Homo sapiens: one gene and its partners. The protein of the gene in region 2 purifies or fractionates together with the protein of the main gene of each other region. This does not show direct contact. Each region holds a gene or a part of one and is shown on either strand. Other genes may lie near its edges.

Region 1 (4,156 bases), on a different chromosome or scaffold from region 2:
GTAAAATGTTTTCTAAAATGTTGATTATTACCAAAAACAAAGAGGGTGAATATAGTGAAAATTTACTAGAAATTACAGTTCTGTTAATATGCATTGAATAATGCAGCATAAAATGAAGGAAGGCAATATATATTGCTCTGATGTCCTATAATTCCAAAAGACTTTAGTTAAAATGGATATGTAAAAAGAGGTAAAATTTTAACCCAGGGAAATTTGACTCTTAGAAATAAATTTACGAAGAAGTTGATAGAGAAAAACAATACGAAAATTAAACAAAAGGATGTTATACACTAACCTTTGCAAAGGATTCCTCAGTTGTCTGCAGCTGATCTTCTCTGTCCCTAGAGTCAGGTAAACTGGGGCTGAAGGCCATGAGGTCGGTCTTGGGTGGGCCCTCACCAGAGCACACCCTCGGCCTCCTCTGCTGCGAGTATGACCAGCTCCCCACCGCACTGGAGCACACCAGCGTGGGCTTGCCCGGAGCGCACGCGCCCTCGGTGGGCAGCGCAGAGCACCGCAGCGCGGTGTACAGCAGCAGCGTGAGCACCAAAAGGCTGGACACCGCGCAGATGGCAATGATCAGGTATACGTTGACATCCACCAGCGCAGCATCGGGACCCACAGCGCCCACCAACGCCCGTGAGGAGGCCTTTGGCGCCTGTCCACTCTCCACAAGTGACACCAGCACAGTGGCCGTGGCCGTCAGCGCGGGCTCGCCGTGGTCCTTCACCAGTACCAGTAGGCGGTGGCGCGGAGCGTCCGTTTCGTCCAGGGCACGCGTTGTGCTGATCTCGCCAGTGTACAGCCCCACGCGGAACGGGATGCGCGCGCCACCAGTCCCCGGCTGCAGCTCGTACGAAAGCCACGCGTTGTAGCCCGAGTCAGCATCCACCGCGCGCACCTTTGCCACCACGTGGCCCACACCCACCGACCATGGCACCAGCTCGCTCACTGCGCCACCAGTGCCACCCGCCCGAGGCGCTAGCAGTGCTGGCGCGTTGTCGTTTTCGTCCAGCACGAACACCTGCAGCGTCACGTTGCTGCCCAGAGGTGGCACGCCGGCATCGCGAGCGGTCACCTGAAACTGCAGCAGCTCTAGCTCCTCGTGGTCCAGCGGCTGCAGCGCGTACACCTTGCCGCTCTCCGCATGCACCGAAACGTAGCTCGACAGCGCGCGCTCCCCTACCCGCCGCTCTACCAGCGAGTAGGACACCAGCGCGTTCTCCTGCGCGTCCGCGTCCCACGCAGACACAGTGAAGATGTGGCAGCCCGGCGGGTTGTTCTCCTTCACGAACACTGTGTACTCGGGCTGCGCGAACGCCGGAGCGTTGTCGTTCACATCAGCCACCTCCACAGAAACACTGGCCGTGGCCCACAGCGAAGGCGAGCCCCCGTCTCGCGCGGTCACCACCAGCTCATAGGCTGACACGCTCTCGCGGTCCAGGGCACTGTCCAGCACCAACGAGTAGTAATTCTTGAAGGTGGACACCAGCTTGAAGGGGACGTGGGACGTCAAGGAGCAGGTGACCAGCCCATTGACACCCATGTCTTTGTCGGACACGCTGATCAGGGCGATGACTGTACCCAGTGGAGCGTCCTCTCTAATTGGAAGTGATAAAGACTTGAATTCCAAATCTGGGACATTATCGTTGTTGTCTTCTACTTCCACAATAACTCTACAATGGCCAGAAAGTGGGAGCTGTCCCTTATCAATGCCCTCTACAATAATTTCATAGGATTTGCTTTCTTCAAAGTCAATATATCCCTTTACAATAATTTGTCCAGTAATTGGATCTATGTGAAACTTGGATTTCACATTTGGCGAAATATCATTTGAGAATGAATAAACAATGTCCCCATTCAATCCTTCGTCTAAATCTGAGGCGTTAAGTTTAATTACCAATGTTCCATTAGGAACATTTTCTAGTAATCTCACCTTATAAATGGTTCTGTCAAAAGCTGGGGCATTGTCATTGGCATCCAGTACTGTGATGAGTAACTGAACGGTGCCAGTCAACTCGGGTTTGCCTCCATCAGTGGCTGTGAGCACTAAAAAAATCTCCGGAGCTTCTTCTCTGTCTAAAGATTTCCGTAATATAAGCCCAAGACCTTTTACCAGCTCGTCATCAGGTGGTTTTTCCAGAGAAAAGTATTCATTTGGGCTCAGTCTGTAAGTGAGCAGGGCGTTCTCCCCGATATCTGCATCCGAGGCGCCCTCTAGTGGAAACCGAGAGTCAAGCGGCCTGGATTCCGCGATGGACAGGTTCTTTTGTGTTGCTGGGAACACCGGCGGGTTATCGTTAATGTCCCTCACCTCCACGTCCACATGGAAAACCTGCAGCGGCCTGTCTACGATCACCTCCAGGTGGATGCTGCACTCCGCGCTCCGCCGGCACAGCTCCTCCCGGTCGATCCGAGAATTCACAAACAAAATGCCATTCTGCAGATTTACCTCCAGAAGGCCTCCGCGGCCCTTGGACGCCACCCGGAACAGGCGCGGCACCAGCTCCGCCAGCTCCAGTCCCAGGTCCTGCGCGATGCGGCCCACGAAGGTGCCGTGTTTGGCCTCCTCGGAGACCGAGTAGTGGAGCTGACCGTTCCCTGCCTCCCAGGCTGCGAGGAGAAGAAGTAAGAGCAGCAGACGCCGGGATTCCTGGCCGCTTCCCCAGGAAAACTCCATCTTTAGTGCACAGTATTTTGTTCTGATTAAATATCGTTTCTCAAAGTCAAGGGAAATCTTTTAATCGGTCAGTCAAGTGCAGCTGCATCCTCCATATTTCAGACTCCAAAGAGTGTATATGGTTCCTTCCAGTAAGAATAGAAGGAATTTTCCCTTCTTCCTCCTTCTCTCATGTATTTTGTGGTAAAGAGCGACATCATGTGGCTCCAAACCGTAAGTAGCAATTGTGGAAACCCCCACACACTCTACTGTAAACTACTTGGTTTTATTTATTATTTCAGTCGTTTCGGAGAATAGGAATACATTTTGTACTACTGTGGTACACATTGTACCACTGATTGATTGAGTGTGGTCCTTAGTTTCGCCATAGGGGCAACTTTTACTTCAGTAGAAATAATTTTTTCAACACAGGTTTTAAGTATTACAGAGACCTAACTATACACTTTGTAAACATGTAACTGTAAACTGTTGATTAGAAAAATTCATTACAGATTCCTGTGTTCCCAAGAATTCCAGGGTTTTTTTTTATTAATGATAACACCCTCTTCACCCTAGTATTTCTGGTGTTGTTGACTTGAGGGGACTGGTCTCTAGGGAACTTCTGGTGCCAAGAACAAGCTATTGACAGGGAAATTTGCAGATGTTTTATAAAAGGATCAAAGACCATCAGCATTTAATTAGATGTCTTCCTTGAGTCATGTCAGGGCTGAAAGTGCAAGGAAGCAGGAAGTTATAGCAAATAGCTTGCATGGAAAAGCATTCCAAATAATTTTATTCATTGGAACTCATTTGCTCCCATGAGAAACGCTGGTATTCTCATTTTGACTCTTACAGTTTATAAGTACTTGCTTGTTCTCCAGTATGTAATGTGCCTAAGCTTCTATTTTCTCCTATAGTGCTTATATATTTTAGCCAAACTGAATATTTCCTGCTTCCAATAGCTTTTTTTAATAAACAAGCATGTTCATTTTGTCCTGTCTATAAGTAATCCACATCATTTCTAAACTCTTCTAAAGCCAATTTACCCCATTTTATAACCACTTAAAACTTCCCTGACCCATGAAGAATGTCATGATCAAACCAATTGAACAGGTATTTTTTCTTCTTTTACAAACTGCAGCACCAGGGTGGAATCGCGTGGGCCATTTATTACATTAATTTATCTCTTATAAGCATTTGAGTATGTGTGTCCTTTTTTGGAATATATATTTTAAAGGGAATAGTTGTATCTTAATTGTTTAATAGCTCAGAGGGACTTACCTAATATTTCCTAAATATTTACCCTGCAGAAAATGTTTGCTTCCTTCCATTGCCTAATAAAATGCATTAATTTAAGGTGATCGCATATCTAGTTGGGAAAATGTGGTGTTTCAATAGCCTCTATGATTTTCTAAAGATACAAAAAAAGTCTCTAGACATTTCCCCAATTAAGATGTATTTCAAGTTCAATGTTGAAAACTTGGGTTTTAGCTTAAT
Region 2 (3,500 bases):
GTAAAATCATTTTTAAGCCTTTCAAAGCTGTTAGCTTTACTAGTCCAAATAGTTACTGAAATGAATTCTTCATAGCAATTTGCCAGATCCTCCCCACTTATAAAGATAAATGTTAATGTCAATATTTATTCTTGTGTGTATCCGGGAGTGTGTCTTGCTTCATTATTTCTACATGGAGGAAAGGACCTGGACAGACTGCTTGTATCAAGTCAGTGGTTGTCAGGTGCTCCCTCAGACTTGACACACTTTCAAAAAAGGAACAGGTAACACAAACCTAAACTTTCAAGAGCCTGTTTCATTGCAAATTGACTGATGCAGCAGTTAGTCATTTTCATCTCCAAATAATATTCCTGGGACCATTAGACCATAGAAATGAGCCTTCATTTGGAAAATATGCTTGTAGTAGCCACAGCATAAAAACAGAGATTAAACGTTACCATTAATATGGCTCTTTTTACCTTTTACATTTTATGAACTTCATTCTTAGGCACCTGTACATTTAACTTTGTTTTACAGGTACACTTGGCTTAAAGAAAGTTATTTGTAAATAGTGTCTTATTTGTCCCTTACTGGGGTTCCAGATTGCTTATTAAAAACCTGATGATGTACTAGAACCTCCTCTTATTTGTTTAAAAAAAAAAAGTGTGAACTATACTCAGATGGTCTCTGTTCTCCTCTTCCCCTTTCCTCCTTAATTTTGTTTTTCTTTTTGTTTCATCTTCTTTCCCTGGGCTCTCTCCCCTACCAGCTTATTTGCATTCTGCTCCAGCTGGTTCTTGAGTCACTTTCCTGGAGGCAGCACTTCAAGTCCAATTAGAGTGGCAGCCGAGCAGGAGATGGCCAAAACGAGAGTGCTGTAGGAGAGAGGCTTGTTTTTGTTTTTTATTTTAATATGTTCCCTTATGGGTCCTGAAAGATGGAAAGTATTGTCCTTTAACCCTTGCTACTGCCGCTAACACCTGCTCAAAATGCATAGCATCCAGAGGCAGGGGTGAGCTTCCACCTTTCAAAAAACTGCATTATTCAAAATGTTATTTGGCATCCTTTTTTCTTAAGACATGTTGTCTAATAAGCCAAACTTTTCTGGGTCCCTTCCCTTAAGGTAAATTAAACTCATCAGTCATTATTACTAACTTATGCTCAAAGGCCTCTTGTTTCCTGTTTTTTAAACATAGAAGAAGCATTTACACACACAGCATTTACTCACTGTTAAGCCCTGCAGTGACATTTGGTTGCAGCAGGCAGTGTGGTATTGAAAAGCAGATTCCTTTGTTCACCCCTGTACAGTGTGTCCCAGTTTCAAAACATCCTGACACTCACCTTGGGGATGGCTCCAGTCCTGTGGATCATGGGTACAGAAAAGACAGGCGGAGGCACTATCATAATTAATCATATCTGTGATCATTATCTTTGGCAAATATTGTTCTACTGTTATGTCATGGTCTCCCCCACCCACTTTTTAAATTAAAATTAAAATTTCAAGGTTTTATTTCGTTTGGTTTGGTTTCTTGCCACAATTGCAATTATTTGTTGTACCTCAGCTTTTAGCATCACATTTGGTTGAAAGTGTTTTTCGAGGGTCAGTCAAAACATTTAAATAGCATTACTCTAACATTTATATTCATGACAGGCATCAACTGGGGACTAGAGGGCTTTTCAACTGCCTTATTACTGAAAGTTCTATCAATTCATATTCAAAATTAAAGCCATTGAGGTCACTGAAATCAAAAATACACAAATACTCCATGGGTTTAAAAACTGTTCTTGTGATAAAAGTGCCTGCCATTCTAGCATAAATAACAAAAAGAGCTCAAGAAGGGACCTATAGACCAGGTTTGGGAATACTAGTTATTTGCCGTAAAGTCCAATTGCAAAGAGAGATAATGACGTATTTTCAGGATTTCTTTAAGAATCCTAACTTCTCCTCACTGGCACCAGTGCAGGAAAGAGAAAGTAGTTGCAGGGTGCCATCTGGAGGGATCATGGTGAGGGAAGTACCTGACATCCAGCCCCCTTAGGAATCCAGGTCATGGGCACGAGGTGGTTTCCTACAGGTAATTAATTCCCCACTGTGACCACATGGTCTCAGTGCCTACACTGATCACACAGCAGTTCTGAAATCACTAAGCCTGTCCACGACACTGGGGTTCTGCTGATTCTGAATCTCACTGGGATCTTGCCCACAGTGTCCTCTGAAGCACATACTCCCCCTCCACCCCTCAGTTTATTTTCTTAGCTGAAGGAAAGAGTGGCTATTGAAGTTGGTATTAAATTATTTAGTGGTACTTCTAGCAATTTCTATTTATAGGTCTTCTGGTGCCCTTTAAGCATACATTTATATCTATTTCACTTTGTGCCTAAAAATATTAATTTAGAAAAGAAAACAAGACAATCAAAATTCTAATTTTTGTTCTAATTCCTATTGCCTTTTCTTCTCCTGAACAATGTCAGGGCAGGAGTACCCTAGGAGTATCCAAAGAAGTCCTGTGGTTAACCAAATGTCTGTGGTAGGGAAGGAACAGCTATGTAATTAGTTCACCGTGCCTGCAGCTGACCGCTCATTCTCTCCAAACGGGGGCTGGAGAGAAGCAGTTGCACATGCCACTTTTGTATCCGCTGCTAATGGCAGAGTCACCTCCTCTTACCACAACACTCTTGCCCTTTAAAACATGGCCTTTATTGTTTAATGGAATTCTGGAAGAAGAAAATGATTTACAATATCCTAGAGGTCCTTTATGGATAAAAAAATTTTATTTTAAACATTAAACATTTTGAAATTGTCCTGCGGCATAGAAATCTTTTGCATAATCATACATTTTCCAGCCATTCGAGGTCATATTTTCTCATATCGTAACTTTTTCCTAGCCATTTATTTGTTTTAACATTTGGTCCTGCTCAAGTGCTAAGGCAAAGGTTGTCTTTGAAGACAGTGATTCCACTAGAGTAGTTGAGAAATTGACAAAAACACTTCGTGAAAAATATATAATTTCAGTATGTAAAAAACCATTATATAGAGAGAGGTATTTGAATGGAATTATATCAAAGATACAGTGATAATCACATTTTTCCTTTGTGCTCAGTGTAAAGTAAGTGACACATATGGAAAGAAAACAGAAATTCCTACCCAGTGAATAAATGAAACAGGTTCCAAAGAACAGCCTATCACCTACTGTCTTTTGAGTTGGGCACACTGGCTCACAGCTGTTCTGTTTTGCATTGTTGGCAAGAATCCTTTTTCTTCCTTACATTTTTATCTTTATATTTATTTATGATTCTTCATTTTATAGTTTCCCAGCCATATAAGGTTTCCTTCTAGGACATGCAGTATGCAATCCATGTCTTTAATATGTTATGAGAGAAATTAACCTGGTTACTGTTCATCCTCAAGACCATCCCAAGGAAGCTTCTCCAACTCTCTCGACACTGAGGTCATAAGTTTGACATAGCACTTATCATTTTGCTTAATAAGAATCATTATGTGTGTATGTATGTGTGTTTAT
Region 3 (2,167 bases), on a different chromosome or scaffold from region 2:
CTGCCAGTCCCTGGGGGGAGGCAGGAGGCACATGTGAGGGTCCCCAGAGAGAAGGGAGTGGGTGGGCAGGGGTAGAGGAGGGGGCCGCTGTCCACCTGCCCAGTGCTTGGCCTGGCAGTGGCTTCAGAGAGGACCTGGTGGGGAGGGAGGGCTTTCCTGTGCTGACAGCGCTCCCTCAGGAGGGCCTTGGCCTGGCACGGCTGTGCTCCTCCCCTGCTCCCAGCCCAGAGCAGCCATCAGGCTGGAGGTGACGATGAGTTCCTGAAACTTGGAGGGGCATGTTAAAGGGATGACTGTGCATTCCAGGGCACTGACGGAAAGCCAGGGCTGCAGGCAAAGCTGGACATGTGCCCTGGCCCAGGAGGCCATGTTGGGCCCTCGTTTCCATTGCTAGTGGCCTCCTTGGGGCTCCCGTTGGCTCCTAATCCCTTAGGACTGTGGATGAGGCCAGACTGGAAGAGCAGCTCCAGGTAGGGGGCCATGTTTCCCAGCGGGGACCCACCAACAGAGGCCAGTTTCAAAGTCAGCTGAGGGGCTGAGGGGTGGGGCTCCATGGTGAATGCAGGTTGCTGCAGGCTCTGCCTTCTCCATGGGGTAACCACCCTCGCCTGGGCAGGGGCAGCCAAGGCTGGGAAATGAGGAGGCCATGCACAGGGTGGGGCAGCTTTCTTTGGGGCTTCAGTGAGAACTCTCCCAGTTGCCCTTGGTGGGGTTTCCACCTGGCTTTTGGCTACAGAGAGGGAAGGGAAAGCCTGAGGCCGGCATAAGGGGAGGCCTTGGAACCTGAGCTGCCAATGCCAGCCCTGTCCCATCTGCAGCCACACTACTCGCTCCTCTCCCAACAACTCCCTTCGTGGGGACAAAAGTGACAATTGTAGGCCAGGCACAGTGGCTCACGCCTGTAATCCCAGCACTTTGGGAGGCCAAGGCGGGTGGATTACCTCCATCTGTTTAGTAGAAATGGGCAAAACCCCATCTCTACTAAAAATACAAGAATTAGCTGGGCGTGGTGGCGTGTGCCTGTAATCCCAGCTATTTGGGAGGCTGAGGCAGGAGAATCGCTTGAGCCCGGGAAGCAGAGGTTGCAGTGAACTGAGATAGTGATAGTGCCACTGCAATTCAGCCTGGGTGACATAGAGAGACTCCATCTCAAAAAAAAAAAAAAAAAAAAAAAAAGGCAATTGTGCGGAGCCAACCATCACTGCCATTACACTCACATTCAATGGAAATTGATTAGGCCTGAGAGAAGGAGCAAGAGGCAGAAACACTGACTCTGAGACCATGACCTTGGAAGATCCTCAGAGATCAACTAGCCAAGTCACTCACTTAAAATGGGGAAACTGAGGTTCCAACTGACAGAAACTGAGGGTCCTGCCCTCTTCTCTGGCTCCTCAGTCTCCAGTTTGAAGCAACAGAGCCATCATTTTCCCAGTGGGAGGGGCCTCTGTGTCCTGGTCTATGATGGGGCGAGTTGGAGGGGTGGGCTTCTCTAGCCCTGCCCCCTCCCAGGAGCCCAGCCCCTCTGGCCAGGACTGAGGAGGAGTGGAGGGAAGCAGGGAGGGAGGGAGCAAGTGTGAAGGGCACAGCTGCTGGCAAATGCCCCATTCCCTGCCCCAGCACTTCCCAGCCTTTCCAGGAGCTCTGCCCCACCCCTACTCAAGGAGTCAGGTGCCCAGGGTAGGGAATAAGTCTAGGAAAGGGGGTGGAGACAGGACCGTGACAGTCTCAGGGACCAATCCCTGCCTCTGCCCATCAGATTGCCAATTTGGGGAGACAGCAATATCATCTGGGAGATTCAGCTTAATTTGCTTCAATTCAGCAACCATTTATTGAGCATCTATTATGTGCCAGGCACTGTGCCGGGCACTGGGGATATACACAAAGCCATAAGCACTGGGGACTGCCAGGTTGGCACTGTAGGGACCAAGATTAACTTTTTGGTGCATCTAATTCCACCTCTGCAAGACACTGCTTCCAAGGCTACAGTTGGGGAAGATGAAGAGATTCTAGAATCTGTGCCCTGGGAAGGGAGAAACAGCAGGGAAGAGGGGCAATACAACAGGGTCAAGGGTGCAGAGGCCAGGCAGAGTGGGTGCAGAGTGGGGGATGGGCAACCAGCCTGGTAACACCTGGGTGAGGTGAGCGAGTCAAGCCCATCTGGAAATGC
Region 4 (3,349 bases), on a different chromosome or scaffold from region 2:
CGAGTCTGCGTATTATCATCCTGGGCCAGGCACAGGCCAGCGTTGGGGAGGTGCTTTGTGAGAGTTTGAGTAAGGGAAGAGCGAGGGCAAGGGTCAGCAAATTTAAACAGTAAAGATTTTAGGCTTTGTGGACCATACAGCCTCTGTCAACCTGTCGCTGGACCCAGAAGGCAGCCAGAGACCATACGGAAGCCAGCAGGCGTGTCCATAAAACCTTATTTACACAAAGGGGCAGCCGGCCGTAGTTTGCTAACCCTTGGTCTAGAGAAACAACAGAATACATTCGATGGCAAACAAGTGATTTTAAGGCCAAGGCTTTCTTGAGAAGGGCCATGGCTTCCAGGAAATTGCTGGTAACAGAGTAGGAAAAGGGTTCAGAAATGAGCCCCCAGGTGAACCTCGGCAGATGTGACTTTGAAGATAAAACTTCTGGAGCCCTGCTGACCACACCCCATGAGGCTTCCTGACACTGGCCATGAGGGCCTTGACTTGGGAGGCGGACAGTATCGGGTGAGGAGTGACAGTGCCCAGGCCATAGGGTCCTCAATCCGGCTTCCTGTCACTCCGATTTAGGGAGAGAGAGGTACCTTGTTTAAAGTTGAACCTTGTCTTCAGGGGATGGGCCACCCAGCAGTGACCCAGGCGAGTTCCACAGCATGTTTTGGGGCTGATCACTTAATGCTGCAGTGGCACAAGTGCCAGTGAAAGAAGCGTTGACAGTGAAGTGATTGGGGCAGCTTCTCGTGGTGCATCCAGGAGGAGGTTCTTGTCACTATGTCCTTTCGGTTCCTATAATATTGAGTTTTCATGGCTCACATGAATTATCCTTATGACCTTTGTAATAATTCCAAACCTAAATGTTTAGCCAGGTAAGAGACTGCTTTTCAGGGGGAGGTGACACATGAGGCCTGACAATGTGAGGGGGTGGGTGACCCTGGGGGCTGTCCATTCCCACTGTGGCTGAGGTAGGAGTTTCTGCTCATTTAATTCAGAGCAGCTAGGCCAGGCAGCCTAAACCAGGACAGCAGGTGCTGCTGCTGGGTGAGGACAGGGATCCCCTAGTCTTTCCTCAGGCTGCCTGAGTTTGGGCATCAGGGCTGGAAGTGGGATGGGACACCAGCAGGCCTCTCCTTTGGCATTCTTGATGGGGACAGAGCCAAGATGCACACTACCCAGTGCTTTAGTGTGCTCACTGCAGCCAGGCCACCTAGGCTCACAGCCTAGGCTTGTCACTGATAAGCTGTGTAACTTTAGGCAAGTTACTTAATCTCACTGTGCCTCAGTTTCTTCATCTGTAAAATGGGGATGATAAAAGCTCCCACGCTGAAGGTTTGTTGAAGTTTTTGGCACACACGAGCGTCCCGTGAAAGTCAGCTGCCAAGAGAAGCCCACAGAGCAGAGGGTCAATGATCAGGGTGAACCGCCCTGAGCCCAGTCCCAGGACCTCCTGCTGGTCCCCCTCATGTTTAAGCTCCACACCCCAATTACATGGAGGACTTAAGAATGTTCCCAGGGTAGCACCAGGTCCAAGGAAAGGGAATGAGCTGCCTGGTTTCTCCAAGGTCAGCAGACAGAAGGGGCCGCACTGTGGAAGAGTTGGACCCCAGCAAGAGGGAGTTCTGGGAGATGGGCCATCTTTCCTGGCCACTTTGCCCAGGCTGCCCCTCTAGCAGCCAGAGCCCTGGACTCCTCAACCCCTTCGTCAGTTTCCCTTTACCCTGCCCCAAAGCCAGAAGCCATGGACGCTTGTGTCAGGCAAAGCAGTTTCCCTTGTTGACACCTGGCACCTGACACAGCCTGTACCTCTTTGGGGACCTTCTGAGGGGCTAGGACCAGACCTCTGGCCCCTGCTCCCCTGTACAGAGCACAGGGTGAGAGGCAGTGTGATCAAGGAACTGTTTGGAAGGTCAGCGCTCATTTTTCCTTGAATAAATGAAAGTCGTGGCTTCCAGGCCATGGAGTGTGGACCCGGGGAGGCCGCAGAGGTATTTGCCTGCAGAGCGCTCCTCCTCACCCTCCAGGGCAGGTGTGGCCTTGTCTCCAGCCTGGTGAGGACAGGCGCTGGTAGCAGGATAATTCCCGGGCTGGACGGAGCATGAGGCGACGAGAGCAGCCTGCTTGGCTGGGCCCCGCTGGGAGTTGGGCCACTAGGCAGCAGGTGGAAATGGCAGTGGCCTGTGTACACCGAGGTAGCATGTATTTTCTGAACCCTCGTATGGGTATGTGGGGATGTGCTTACTTTTTGTTGTGAACCGACAGGTAAAGATCATATACATTCTGAACAAGGCCACGTGATATGGCTCCAAACCAGTCTGTGCCAGGGGTACTCCCCACACACCCCTTCTGCCACCTCAGATGCTCTCCTGCCCTCCTCCCACAGCTCCCGTGCAGCTGGGGAAGCACGGTGGCACTGTGATGGCCTGTCCTGGCTGCTCTGGGCCTGTGGCCCAGACAGACTCCCTGCAGGTGGCCTGCCAGCCCTCCTGCCTGTGTGTGCCACCAGCCCTGAGTGTGTCTCCACTTTGCCACTTGGATGCCCAGTGGGGCATTTCCATCATGGGGGAACCCCTTCCTTCCCCTTGTAGAGGGAAGGCACACCAGCAGCATTTCAGATTTCCATGTTTCAGCCGGGCGCAGGGGCTCACGCCTGTAATCCCAACATTTTGGGAGGCTGAGCCGGGCGGATCACGAGGTCAGGAGATCGAGACCACGGTGAAACCCCGTCTATACTAAAAATACAAAAATATTAGCTGGGCGCAGTGGCGGGTGCCTGTAGTCCCAGCTACTCGGGAGGCTGAGGCAGGAGAATGGCATGAACCCGGGAGGCGGAGCTTGTCGTGAGCCGAGATCGCGCCACTGCACTTCAGCCGGGTCGACAGAACGAGACTCAGTCTTAAAAAAAAAAAAAAAAAAAAAAAAAGAGATTTCCATGTTTCACTGTCTATGAGGAGTCACCATTTTCTGTGAAAATGAGGTCCTATGCTTTATTAAGAAAATTTGATTTTTAAGAAAAATATAAAAATTTTTAAGAAAGTAGGATTTTTTTTTTTTAACTACATGGAGCAAAGAGTGCCAGACAGCATTCTAATGTACAGAAATCCAAAAAGCATCCTGCTCTCCCAGGCCTTCTCCTGGCTCAGAGTGGGGGCAGCTGGGATCACGTGTGCTGGGAAGGGCCTGGTTGGACTTCTTTCTCCCTGATGGTGGCCACCACGAGGCACCTTGGCAGAGAAGGAACAGGGGAAGCTGAGACCAAACACAGAGATGACACAGCTCCTCTGAAGCTAGGCTGGAGGGGGAGAAACTGCCTTGAGGGGTGTTGGGCCTCATAAAAGCCTGTTTGTCTACT
Region 5 (3,500 bases), on a different chromosome or scaffold from region 2:
GAGAGAGGGGGAAGGGAGAGACGGCGTTAGAGACAGCTTCCACGATGCCCCTCCTGATGCTGCTCCTTACCCCCCAGTCTAGCCCCGTGAGGGCCCCAGTTGCCAGGTAAGGCTCCCCAAGCAGGAGGCAGGGCCTGCGTTCCAGGCCAGCCGCCACGGAAGCATCCACCTGCCCCACCCACCCCTGAGAGCAGAGGGCAGCTCCGTCCTCACCTGGAACATCTGGATCATGTCCTCGCAGTTGCGCTGCTGAGCCACATCGCAGAGCTTGGCGGTGATGTCGATGCGGCGGCAGATGTCCATATCCACCTTCATGGCTTTCTCCTGGATCTTGGTGTCCAGCTCCGACAGGTTCTGTCCAGGGAGCCCAGGGAACAGTGAGGAGGCGCCCAGTTCTCCAGACAAGGACGAATTAGGCCTGGCAAGGTCCTCATCCTTCCCACCACATTGCACCGGTGCCTCTTCTGTGGAGTCTCCCTGAGCTGACTGCACCCCTCTTCCTGGGTAGCGGTGGCCTCCCCACAGCACTGTGTGAATATGCTGGGCATGGGGCGGCTCGGGCCACTGCTCCCTGGCCAAACGGAAGCCCTGGAGGGCATGGCCAGTGCCTGGGACATGCAGGGGGCTCACTGGAACGACTAGCGGTCCTCATCCTCCTAGAACTTACATTCCCAGAGAGAAAGAGACTCCTGGGAATTATAAGAGTGGAGAAAGGACTATAATAATCGCAACAGCTAACACTCTTCCAGCTAACACTGCATGCTGGGCACTGTCCCGAGTACATGACCACCCTCACAATACTCCTGCAGAGCGCACGCGTTTATTTCCCCACGCCAAAGGTGAGGCCTCAGAGGCTGAGGAATCGGCCCAGCGCCCCGGCGCCAGCTGCAGAGCCTCCACCCCAGAAGCTGCTCACTAACTGCTCTGCAACCCCAGGCCCTCAGAAGCTGCGCCACCTCTGTGACGCAACACCGAGACTTTTGTTGCTTGTCTTTCTCTGGAGTTAGGGGTGGCTAGGGGAAAAAGGGAAGGAAAGCAAAGAGAAGGGGAGGAGCCGTGGACGGGAGGCCAACAGGCCAACACTAGAAGGGCCTACTCTTCTGGCCTCAGAAGCCTCACTTCGACCCTCGGGAAGCCTGGGGCTGCACTCACGTTACTCATGAGCCCCTTGAAGACCACCAGCTCAGCCTTCAACTGTTCCACCTTCAGTGCCAGCTCCTCCTGGCAGGCATCAGCCTCCTGGGCTTCCTGCAGTTGGGAGAAACCCTGATGTTGGTGGCACTGCCGAGGTGGGAGGAAGATAAAGATGCCAAGGAGGGACAGGGAGACGGCAGCAGGGTCATGGGCAGACAGGGGTACCCAGGGAAGCACCAGCAGCAAGTGGGGCGCCACCCTCACCTCCTGGAGCTCATTTACACGGTCTTGCAGCTGGATCCGCACCGTGTACTCCTCTTCCCACCTGACAGACATGGGAAGGGCGGAGAGAGCTTAGGTACAGAGTCCTTCCCTGCCCCCATGGCTCCCTGTCCCCACCTCTCTGGCTCAGGCCTCAGACCCCAGTTCTGGTTCCCTGGATGGGGAGGAGCAGGGCACAGGAATGCCTGGCCAGCCAGCTGGTGACCAACTGCAGCTGTCACGCGGCTCTGTGCTTCCTGATGGGCGTCGAGCTCGCCAGCTGCCTTCCCGGAACCTCCGGGCTGTGCACCAGGAGCTCTGTTTGGGCAAGTGCTGAGGCTCCGGTCCTCCGTGATGCCCATCCCTGCTCAGGCCCCAGCTCAGCCAGCTGTCCGGCTGGCCTCATTGCCCACCTCCTGCCCACACCAGACCACCAGGTCCACCCGGCCCAGTCTCCCACCTTCAGTCGCACAGATCCGGGCTCCCGCCTCCTGCCCGCACCAGAACAGAGCTCGTCGAGCCCGCTGCCCTGCCTCTTGTGGTATCATTTAACCCTGTAAAAGCATCTGCAGGACACATAGTGTATCAACAGAGTGGGTCAAGAGCCTGGTAGGAGACACTCAAAGTCCTTCCCCACTAGCTCCAGAAACTACCCACCCAGAGCCTCCTCTAAGGGAGTCACAGAGAGGTGACCAGACTGGCTCAGAGGCCGGAAGTCCCACAGCAGCATGACAGCAGTGGACACACGAGCCTGGGGTTACTAGCACTCAAACCCAGAGGGAAAGAGAAAGTAGAGTATGTAAAGGGGCCCGGTGAGTACGGCAAATGAGAACTAGACACAGCCTGTTCCAGGGCCCAGAATTCAGAGATTAAGACTGCAAGTGGGCCGGACGACACCCTGGGCCACAGGGCAGGGTCCTAGGTAGGGCATGCTTCCCAGAGCCAGCTTTGTCATGTCTCATCAGCCATGGCAGGCAGTGCATATTCTATTCCATCACAGAGATGGAAGCCAGGGCAACGTGCTGCTTAGGACCCGCCCGGCATTCCAGGGCCCTGCAGTCTAGCTGGCGTAGCAGCACATCTCAAATCCTGTTCCTGTGAGCTCATCACTTCTGTCAACCCGAGAAGGGAGGGGAACTGCACCAAGAGAGAAACTTCAACACAAGAAAGGTGGTTAGGAAGGGGCCAAGAAGACAGCAAGAAAATTAAAATCTGAGTGGGCAGCTTCTGAAGCCTTGGGTGAAGCCCTTTCTTCCCCTTCCCTCCATCTTCCTTCCTGTGTCAGCCTCTGGGTCCCATCTCCTCATTCACAGCCGCACTGCAGTATTCCTAATAATAACTCCTCCACATCACCTCGACTGCCCCTCCCTGCTGGGCAGAGCAGGAGGAGGCAGCCAGCCCAGCCACCACCCTGCTGGCTCCCCACACAGCCCAGCTCCCAGCCTTCCTGGCTCCCAGCCCCCTTCCCTGTGTGTCCCGTAGGTGCTTCTCCCCTCCTCCCTGGCATTCTCATGCATACAGTCAGGCCACTAAGGGAACCAGTCGCATCAGATTATGTTTTCTTAGCTAAGACCCTTATCTTTTCTGGGTCTTGGTTTCTTCATCTATGATGTGAAGGCATGAACTGTGGTGCCCTCATGCGCCGGGAGCCCACGAGTCCCTGGAGGGAGACAGTAAGCCTGTCAAGGGCACGCTAACCCTGGACAAGATGTGTGAAAGAGGGCAGGAGGGGCTATCTGACAGTGAGCTCAACAGAGCCTGGAAGAAACTTAAGTAAGGCAGTTATAGCTAAAGGTTAAGCCTAAGGAAATCTTACAGGGTAAAAAAAATCTACAAATGAATCATCTGGAAGCCCACTACAGTTCTATTTGTTCTTTGGCCAGACTTCACACAGACAGGTTCATTTTCACCTCCATTTCCATCTGGTCTCACTTATAAGGTTCCCTTAACATGGGCAGAATTTGAGAGCGATATCCATGTGTTCTGCATGGACCAAATATCTCTCTTCCAAAAAACTGTATCCCTGGGTTGAAGAGAGAAAGCAGGGACCATTCCTATGTTGGGAAAATGGGGGCTCAAAAAAAGGTCACGCACAAGGCAGGGGA
Region 6 (3,500 bases), on a different chromosome or scaffold from region 2:
CTCTTACTAATGTCATATGATAGAGGGCAAGCTCCATGAGAGAAGGGGTCTGTCCACATCTTGTTTCCTGCAGTGCTATCTTCCCAGTACAGGGTGGGTACAAATGCCTACTGAATATGGAAGAAAGAGTAATATAAAGGATTAAGGAACACATAGTAAATGAAAACTAGAATTACCAACCAGATATCAGTTCTTATTCTTATTTTCCAGATGTAAAAAGAGAGGCACTTTGACCTACCCAGGAGTAGCGAAACTGGAGATAGAAAGCCTCTTGATCCCTTTTTTACCTCTTCTAGGCTTGGTTTATCTCCCAGGATCCTTCCAGATCCTAACCTTCCAGGAGCATTCCCTGACCTCCACCACCTCACCGCTGAGGGTCAAGTGCCCCCGCTTGGTGCTCCCGCAAAGTCTTCTCTCTCATAACACTTGTTACACTGAATTGTAATTATCTGTTAATCGTGTGTAAGCTCCTCCTGGAGGGTGGGAATCCTGCCTTATTCACACTCACCCCTAGTAAAACTAGCACAAAGCCTGGTATATAGCAGGCAGTCAGTTAAGTGCTCCTGAGATGGGGGGAAAAAAAGTTTCCTCTGCCCCTGAACCATTTCTCCCTCCAAAGACCCAGGAATATCCTTCAATTAGAGCAGAATTTCAGAATCAGGGCAGTTAAGGGTTGGTCAAAGAGAACCACCTAGGCATAGGGGAAGAAAATTTAGTAGAACAGATCGATATAAAGTCTAATCTAGAGCATTGTTTAGACACATAAGTTAATGAATATAGGGAAACTTGCTATAACAGGAATGGTTCACAGTAGCAATCTCAGCATAGCAAATCCTAAACTCTAAGAGACATAGCACACATAATGGCCATAATGAACAAAATTTCCTTCAACCAACAGCTGGAAATCCCACCCATGGCCAGGTATTATTAGTCAAAATTTTTTCTTTTAGAGAAAAATGCTGGTTTTGAAAACATTTTCCTTTATTTTCATAATACAACAAACACAGCTTGCCCTGCCTCATGCAGGCTTATTGCACGTTTGTTTTAGCACTGGACTAAAGTTAAGGGTCTGCCCTGTCATTATATCACTTTTTTAAAACAGTATCACAAAAATAAAATAAATTATAACCTAAATCCATGAATGTAGTAAAATAGTTCTCTTTCATTTCTGGAAAAAAATAATTACAATTTTACATGGACTTCAGGGTTAAAGTTTCTATAGCACTGATTAGATGACAGGGACATGCAAGTATTAAGACAATATTCTTTGGCCCAGCCCCACAAGTTGATAATACAACAACAACACTACTTTGAAATCATACTAACCTGCTAAAAAATGCCAAAGAGTTTAAATAAAATCATCACCACCACCATGCCACCCCTCCTCCTCTCCTACCAAAAATGTATCCTAAAATAAAGTATACTAACCTTGGGCTTCTCCAACTTAATTAACTTAATTTATTAAACATGCCAAACATAAGTTCCCTTGCAGAAGATAAAACAAACTGCTGGGAAGATCATTCATTAAATTGAATTCACAAGGTAATTGAAAGAAATTCAGCCACCTTCTTTTTCTTTTTCTTTTTCTTAAGTTTTTTGAGATGGAGTCTCACTCTGTCTGCCCAGGCTGGAGTGCAATGGCACAATCTTGGCTCACTGCAACCTCTCCCTCCTGGGTTCAAGTGATTCTTCTGCCTCAGCCTCCTGAGTAGCTGGGATTACAGGCGCCCAGCATCACACCTGGCTAATTTTTTGTATTTTTAGTAGAGACAGGGTTTCACCATGTTAGCCAGGCTGGTCTCAAACTCTTGACCTCAGGTGATCCACCCGCCTCAGCCTCCCAAAGTGCTGGGATTACAGGCATGAGCCGCCGTGCCCAGCCTCTTCTTTTTCCTGTCTGTCTCCTGGGTACCCTAGCATCTCCAGATTCAACAGCAATTCAAAGACATCCAAGTCAGTTCCACCTCTGACATGCAACTGAAAACCAGTGTATATCCTCCTGTGACACAGAGGTACTGGGGAGCAAGTGTGAACCTATAAAGCTCCTGAATACCTCTCCCAAATGGATCCCACAGAGTGAAGATAATGAGTTAAATGCTTTAGCTCTAGGGATTTAAAATATATAGAAAGCAAGTTACTTCTACTGGAAGTTAAACTTAAAGAATTCTCATGGTTATGTCATCTCTCACTGCAGTACCGAGTGTGCTACTTGGCTTCCCTCTCTCCTTCCATCTACTGCCTTGCCCTATCATTTACAGAGGCATTAATGCCGGTTTCAAACTAATAATAATTCTTTTTCTTCTGTGCTGCAAATACCCAATCACTGTGGTTAAATACCATGTATAACATAAACAGGGTCAAGAATGCCAGCTGCCAGAAGAGTCATGTTTAAATTAGCATTAACCAGCAAGCCCTTCCCTAAACAAAAAAGAGAGGGGAAAAAAAATGTTTTCTTGGACAGCTCTGTGCCTGCAGAATGACTTCAACCCCACATGTTCAAAAGGCTCCACAAGGTCCAGCTATAACACAATAGCATCATTAATTTTTACTAAATTAAATTTCTCAAAAGTATAAAGCACTATCAATTTGCGGAGAGTAGGGAGGAAGAAACTACTTATTAGTTTATTCTACAACCTTTATATAATTTGAGTAAACAGGCAATAGTGTCTTAAAACGTAGCAGCCATAAGTTACACGGATTGTAATGGAATAAAAGCCCAGTCCTCCATCCATCATCGCACCCCTCACTCTGCCCCAATATGTGTTACTCAGTGTCTTTCCACATCTTGAGGTTATGTAATACTTCCTCCTTGCCTCCCTATCCCCATGTAGCATAACTCCTTAAAATAACATCAGAGGTCCCCCACAATTTGTCCCTTCGTAACTTTCCAGCCTTCATCACCCCACACTCTCACTTTGTCTTCATTCCCCCACCATTCATCTTTTAAAAGATATGTTATTCTTCAAGCCACATTTATAAATTCGTCCCCTGAATCAAAACGTAATTCTCCATTCCCTGGCATGCCAAAGTTCTTGGACTCTACAGCTACCACCCAGTTACACAACACTGCATATACATATTCGGTATGAACCGTGAGGCTCACTGCATCTTTCCCCCCTGTGTTGCAGTTCTTTCTGGAGCTTCCTTTTCACCATCCTTGCATCTACCACATGGAAGGAATTCAATAATTGTTTGCTGAAATAGAATTACCTCCTTTTCTCTCAACTTTCTAAGACATCCATAATAGTTTTCCCTAAGATTTTTTTTTTTAAGAGACAGAGTCTCTCTGTCACCCAGGCTGTAGTGCAATGGCACAATCACAGCTCACTGCAGCCTTGAATCCTGGGCTGAAGCCATCCTCCCTCCTCCGCCTCCCAAGTAGCTGAGACTACACGCACATGCCACCATACCCAGCTAATGTTTCTATTTTTTTTATAGAGACAGAGTCTCACTATGTTGCCCAGGTTGGTCTCAAACTCCTGGCTTCAAGCGATCGTCCT
Region 7 (3,500 bases), on a different chromosome or scaffold from region 2:
TATTGGAAAAGCTGGTACAGTTGAGGAGGAGAAGTCAGGGAATACAGGAATAGAGATGTGACTAATTGAATGGCCATTGGACTGAAAGTCAAGCAATCCTATATTTTAGACCTGATTGTGCCAGGAACTTCAAGGGATTTGAGAGGAAGTCATTTAACCTCTCTGAGTCACAGTTTTAATATTACAAAACAAGAGAGCTGAATGAGATCTGGTTTCACATTTAACATCGTGTCATTCTGTGATATGAGAAAGGCTAGGCAGAGACAATGGGGAAAAAATTGCATTCTCACAATCTTCCCAGCTCTCTCCATCTACCTTGTTTATGTATGAACTCCTAGCAAGATTTTGGTATTCAACAACATATGCAAGAAGAGCATCAGGCGTTTTCATCCCAACTGGTTTTCTAATTCTTTCCTTGTATATTGAAAGTAATTTTACAAATTAAAATGTTGTGCTAAGTCACAAAAGTTCAGAGAGAAAATGATAACTTTCACATATGAAAAGACACCAGGATTGAAAATGTGTATACCTTTATTTATTTATTCATTCACCCATCCATTTGTTTAATCAACCATATTTATTGAGTACATACTATGTTTCAGGCATCTTCTAGTTCCTGGTGTATATATGTATATATATATGTATATATACATATATACATATATATATACACATATATACATATATATATATACACGCATATATGTTGGGCATCCCTAATCTGAAAATTTGAGTGGAAGTGCTCCAAAACTCCAAATTTTTGAGCACAAACATGAAACAAGTAGAAAATTTCCTACTTGACCTCATGTGATGGGTCACAGTCAAAATGCAGGTACACAATGCACAGTTTACTCAGAATTAACAAGAGAAAAAAGAATTTCCCAGCCCCTTTCGGCTGTGATATATCTTTTTCTTGAACACCCAGTTTTTCCCATGAAAGCAAGTCCACAAAGGGTAAAAAATGGCACCTGTGCAGGATGAATGAGCCTATAGCAGATTTGCCACTCTGCCTCCATGGGGCCAAGATTTGTGTGTATTTCTCTGTGTGTGTCTTTTTTTGTTTTTTGGGGTTTTTTTTTATTTTGTTTTTGTTTTGCTTTTTCTCTACTCTGTGATGTAAATATACTGTTGAAAATATCAAAAAGGTCTGCAGATACTTATGGGTAACAGTGATAAGAAAAAAAAAGGAAGCATTTATGTATACTTATAACACAGAAAGTCAAGCTTTTGGATAAATTGGACAGTGGTATAGGTATAAAATGTCTGATAGAAGAGTATGGTGTTGAGGCCAGGCGCAGTGGCTCATGCCTGTAATTCCAGCACTTTGGGAAGCTGAGGCAGGTGGATCACCTGAGGTTGGGAGTTTGAGACCAGCCTGGCCAACAAGGTGAAACCCTGTCTCTACTAAAAACAGAAAAATTAGCTGGGTGTGGAGGCATGTGCCTGTAATCCCAGCTACTTGGGAGGCTGAGGCAGGAAAATTGCTTGAACCTGGGAGGCAGAGGTTGTAGTGAGCTGAGATCACATCACTGCACTCCAGCCTGGGCAACAGAGTGAGTCTCCATCTCAAAAAAGTAACAATAAAAAAAGAGTATGGTGTTGAAATGACCACCATATATGACTCAAAGAAATAGAAGGATAAACTGTTTAAGTCCTATGCTGAAGTTAATGAAAAATGTAAAAAAACATTCCACAAAGCTACAAATGAAGATCCCAATTGTGTATTGAGAAAGTGGATCCATCAGTATCACAAAGAACACATGCCACTTAATGGTATGCTGATCATGAAACAGGAAAAGATCTATCACGATGAACTGAAAATTTAAAAGAACTGCGAATATGCGTAGTTCTTTGGCATAAATTTAAGAAAAAACATGGCATTAAATTTTCAAATATTTGTAGTGACGAAACATCTGCTGATCAGAAAGCAGCAGAGAAATTTATTGATGAGTTTGCCAAGATCATCACTGATAAAAATTCTCACACTAGATCAAGTCTATAGTGCTGATGAAACATCACTGTTTTGGCATTATTGCTTCAGAAAGACACTGACTTCAGCCGATGAGACAGGCCTTGTGGGCAATCAGGATACCAAGGACAGGATAATTGCGCTGGGATGTGCTAATGCAGCAGGCACACACAAATGTAAACCTGCTGTAATAGGCAAAAGCTTGAATTCTCACTATTTTCAAAGAGTAAATTTCTTACTAGTCCATTATCATGCTAACAAAAGGCATGGGTCACCAGGGACATCTTTTGTGATTGTTTTCACAACATTTTGTAGCAATGGCTCATGCTCACTGCAGGGAAGCTGGACTGGATGAAGGCTGCAAGATTTTGTTATTCCTTGACAACTTTTATGCTTATTCTTCAGCTAAAATTCTCATCAAAAGTAATACTTATTCCATGTGCTTTTCCCCAAATGTGACTTTATTAATTTAGCCATGTGAGAATGGTGTCCTTAGATCAATCAGTGTAAATATAAAACATTTTCGTAAACAGTATGTTATCAGCAGTGAACATAGGTGTGGGTGTTTCGCATAAAGGATGTTGTATATGCTGTTGCCAATGCTTGTAATGCAGTAACTAAAGACAGTTGTGCATACCTGGCATAACCTCTGTCCTGCAACTATGTTCAGTAAGTATTATAAATAAAGTGACTTTGAATGATTCTGTATGTCAAATGAGAAAAAAAAAAGATGTCTGACCATACATACGCAAAAAAAAGTACCTTCAGAGTCCACCAGTAAGTTGGAAGAAGTTGATATTGAAGAAATTTTTAACACTGATAATGAGGCTCCAGTTGTTCATTTATTAACCAATGGTGAAATAGCTGAAATGGTTCTGAATCAAGATGATTGTGATAATAGCAATAATGACGATGGTGGTTAACACTGTAAAGACTTTGTCAGGGGCCAGATCAGGCAGGTCTTGTAGGCCAAGGTGAAAAATTTAGATTTTATGCAAAACACAATGGAAAGCGGGTAAAGGATCTTAAGAGAGGAATAATATGACCATTAGGGTTTAAAAAGGCCACTCTGGTAGCATGGGAGAATAAATTTGAGAGATGCCAGAGGGAAAGCTGGATCTTGGAAGGAAGCTGTTACAGTAGTTTATGGAGTGATAATGATGGTTGCATTAGACTAATGGGTGAATTTTAGATAAATTTTTAACTAAAAGATTTCCTGGTTTGTAGGTTGGCAGTGAAGGAAAGTAAGAAATTAAAGTTGATACTCAGTATTCTGCCTTAGGCCAGCCAGTGGATGGTGGTGCTGATGAGATGGGAACACTCAGAGAGGGGCAGAAGGAAAGACACATTTCAGGGTTCTATTTGGACATGGTACTTTAGCGATATCCATGAGACATCTAGGTGGGGATGGAAGATGAATACAGGAAATGTACCTTTAAGGAGAGGCTCGGGCAAGAGATAATAATTTAGGAGTTGTCTGCATATACATGGTATTTAACGCCAAGAGAAGGGATGAGTTTAGACATGGAAA

Evidence for each region.
Region 1: the proteins of COG5 (region 2) and PCDHA4 purify together in Homo sapiens (affinity purification with mass spectrometry; one large-scale study listed by BioGRID and IntAct). This does not show direct contact.
Region 3: the proteins of COG5 (region 2) and SCN2B purify together in Homo sapiens (co-immunoprecipitation; one large-scale study listed by IntAct). This does not show direct contact.
Region 4: the proteins of COG5 (region 2) and POC1A purify together in Homo sapiens (co-immunoprecipitation; one large-scale study listed by IntAct). This does not show direct contact.
Region 5: the proteins of COG5 (region 2) and IFFO1 purify together in Homo sapiens (affinity purification with mass spectrometry; 2 studies listed by BioGRID and IntAct, with this or other methods). This does not show direct contact.
Region 6: the proteins of COG5 (region 2) and LPAR1 purify together in Homo sapiens (co-immunoprecipitation; one large-scale study listed by IntAct). This does not show direct contact.
Region 7: the proteins of COG5 (region 2) and ANKRD22 purify together in Homo sapiens (co-immunoprecipitation; one large-scale study listed by IntAct). This does not show direct contact.

What each region holds. Positions count from the first base shown.
Region 1 is NC_000005.10:140,805,712-140,809,867, reverse strand, and holds the start of PCDHA4 (protocadherin alpha-4 isoform 1 precursor), read right to left. Parts: upstream 2,801-4,156; 5' UTR 2,681-2,800; coding exon 296-2,680; coding exon of another isoform or gene 284-295; exon of another isoform or gene 1-283. UniProt on the Homo sapiens protein: Calcium-dependent cell-adhesion protein involved in cells self-recognition and non-self discrimination. Thereby, it is involved in the establishment and maintenance of specific neuronal connections in the brain.
Region 2 is NC_000007.14:107,231,921-107,235,420, reverse strand, and holds part of COG5 (conserved oligomeric Golgi complex subunit 5), read left to right. Parts: intron 1-1,208; exon of another isoform or gene 1,209-1,339; intron 1,340-3,500.
Region 3 is NC_000011.10:118,164,473-118,166,639, reverse strand, and holds part of SCN2B (sodium channel regulatory subunit beta-2 precursor), read left to right. Parts: 3' UTR 1-2,167. UniProt on the Homo sapiens protein: Regulatory subunit of multiple voltage-gated sodium (Nav) channels directly mediating the depolarization of excitable membranes.
Region 4 is NC_000003.12:52,078,075-52,081,423, reverse strand, and holds part of POC1A (POC1 centriolar protein homolog A), read left to right. Parts: intron 1-3,349.
Region 5 is NC_000012.12:6,549,543-6,553,042, forward strand, and holds part of IFFO1 (non-homologous end joining factor IFFO1), read right to left. Parts: intron 1,962-3,500; exon of another isoform or gene 1,856-1,961; intron 1,460-1,855; coding exon 1,399-1,459; intron 1,249-1,398; coding exon 1,153-1,248; intron 355-1,152; coding exon 214-354; intron 1-213. UniProt on the Homo sapiens protein: Nuclear matrix protein involved in the immobilization of broken DNA ends and the suppression of chromosome translocation during DNA double-strand breaks (DSBs).
Region 6 is NC_000009.12:111,031,971-111,035,470, forward strand, and holds part of LPAR1 (lysophosphatidic acid receptor 1), read right to left. Parts: intron 1-3,500.
Region 7 is NC_000010.11:88,845,345-88,848,844, reverse strand, and holds part of ANKRD22 (ankyrin repeat domain-containing protein 22), read left to right. Parts: intron 1-3,500.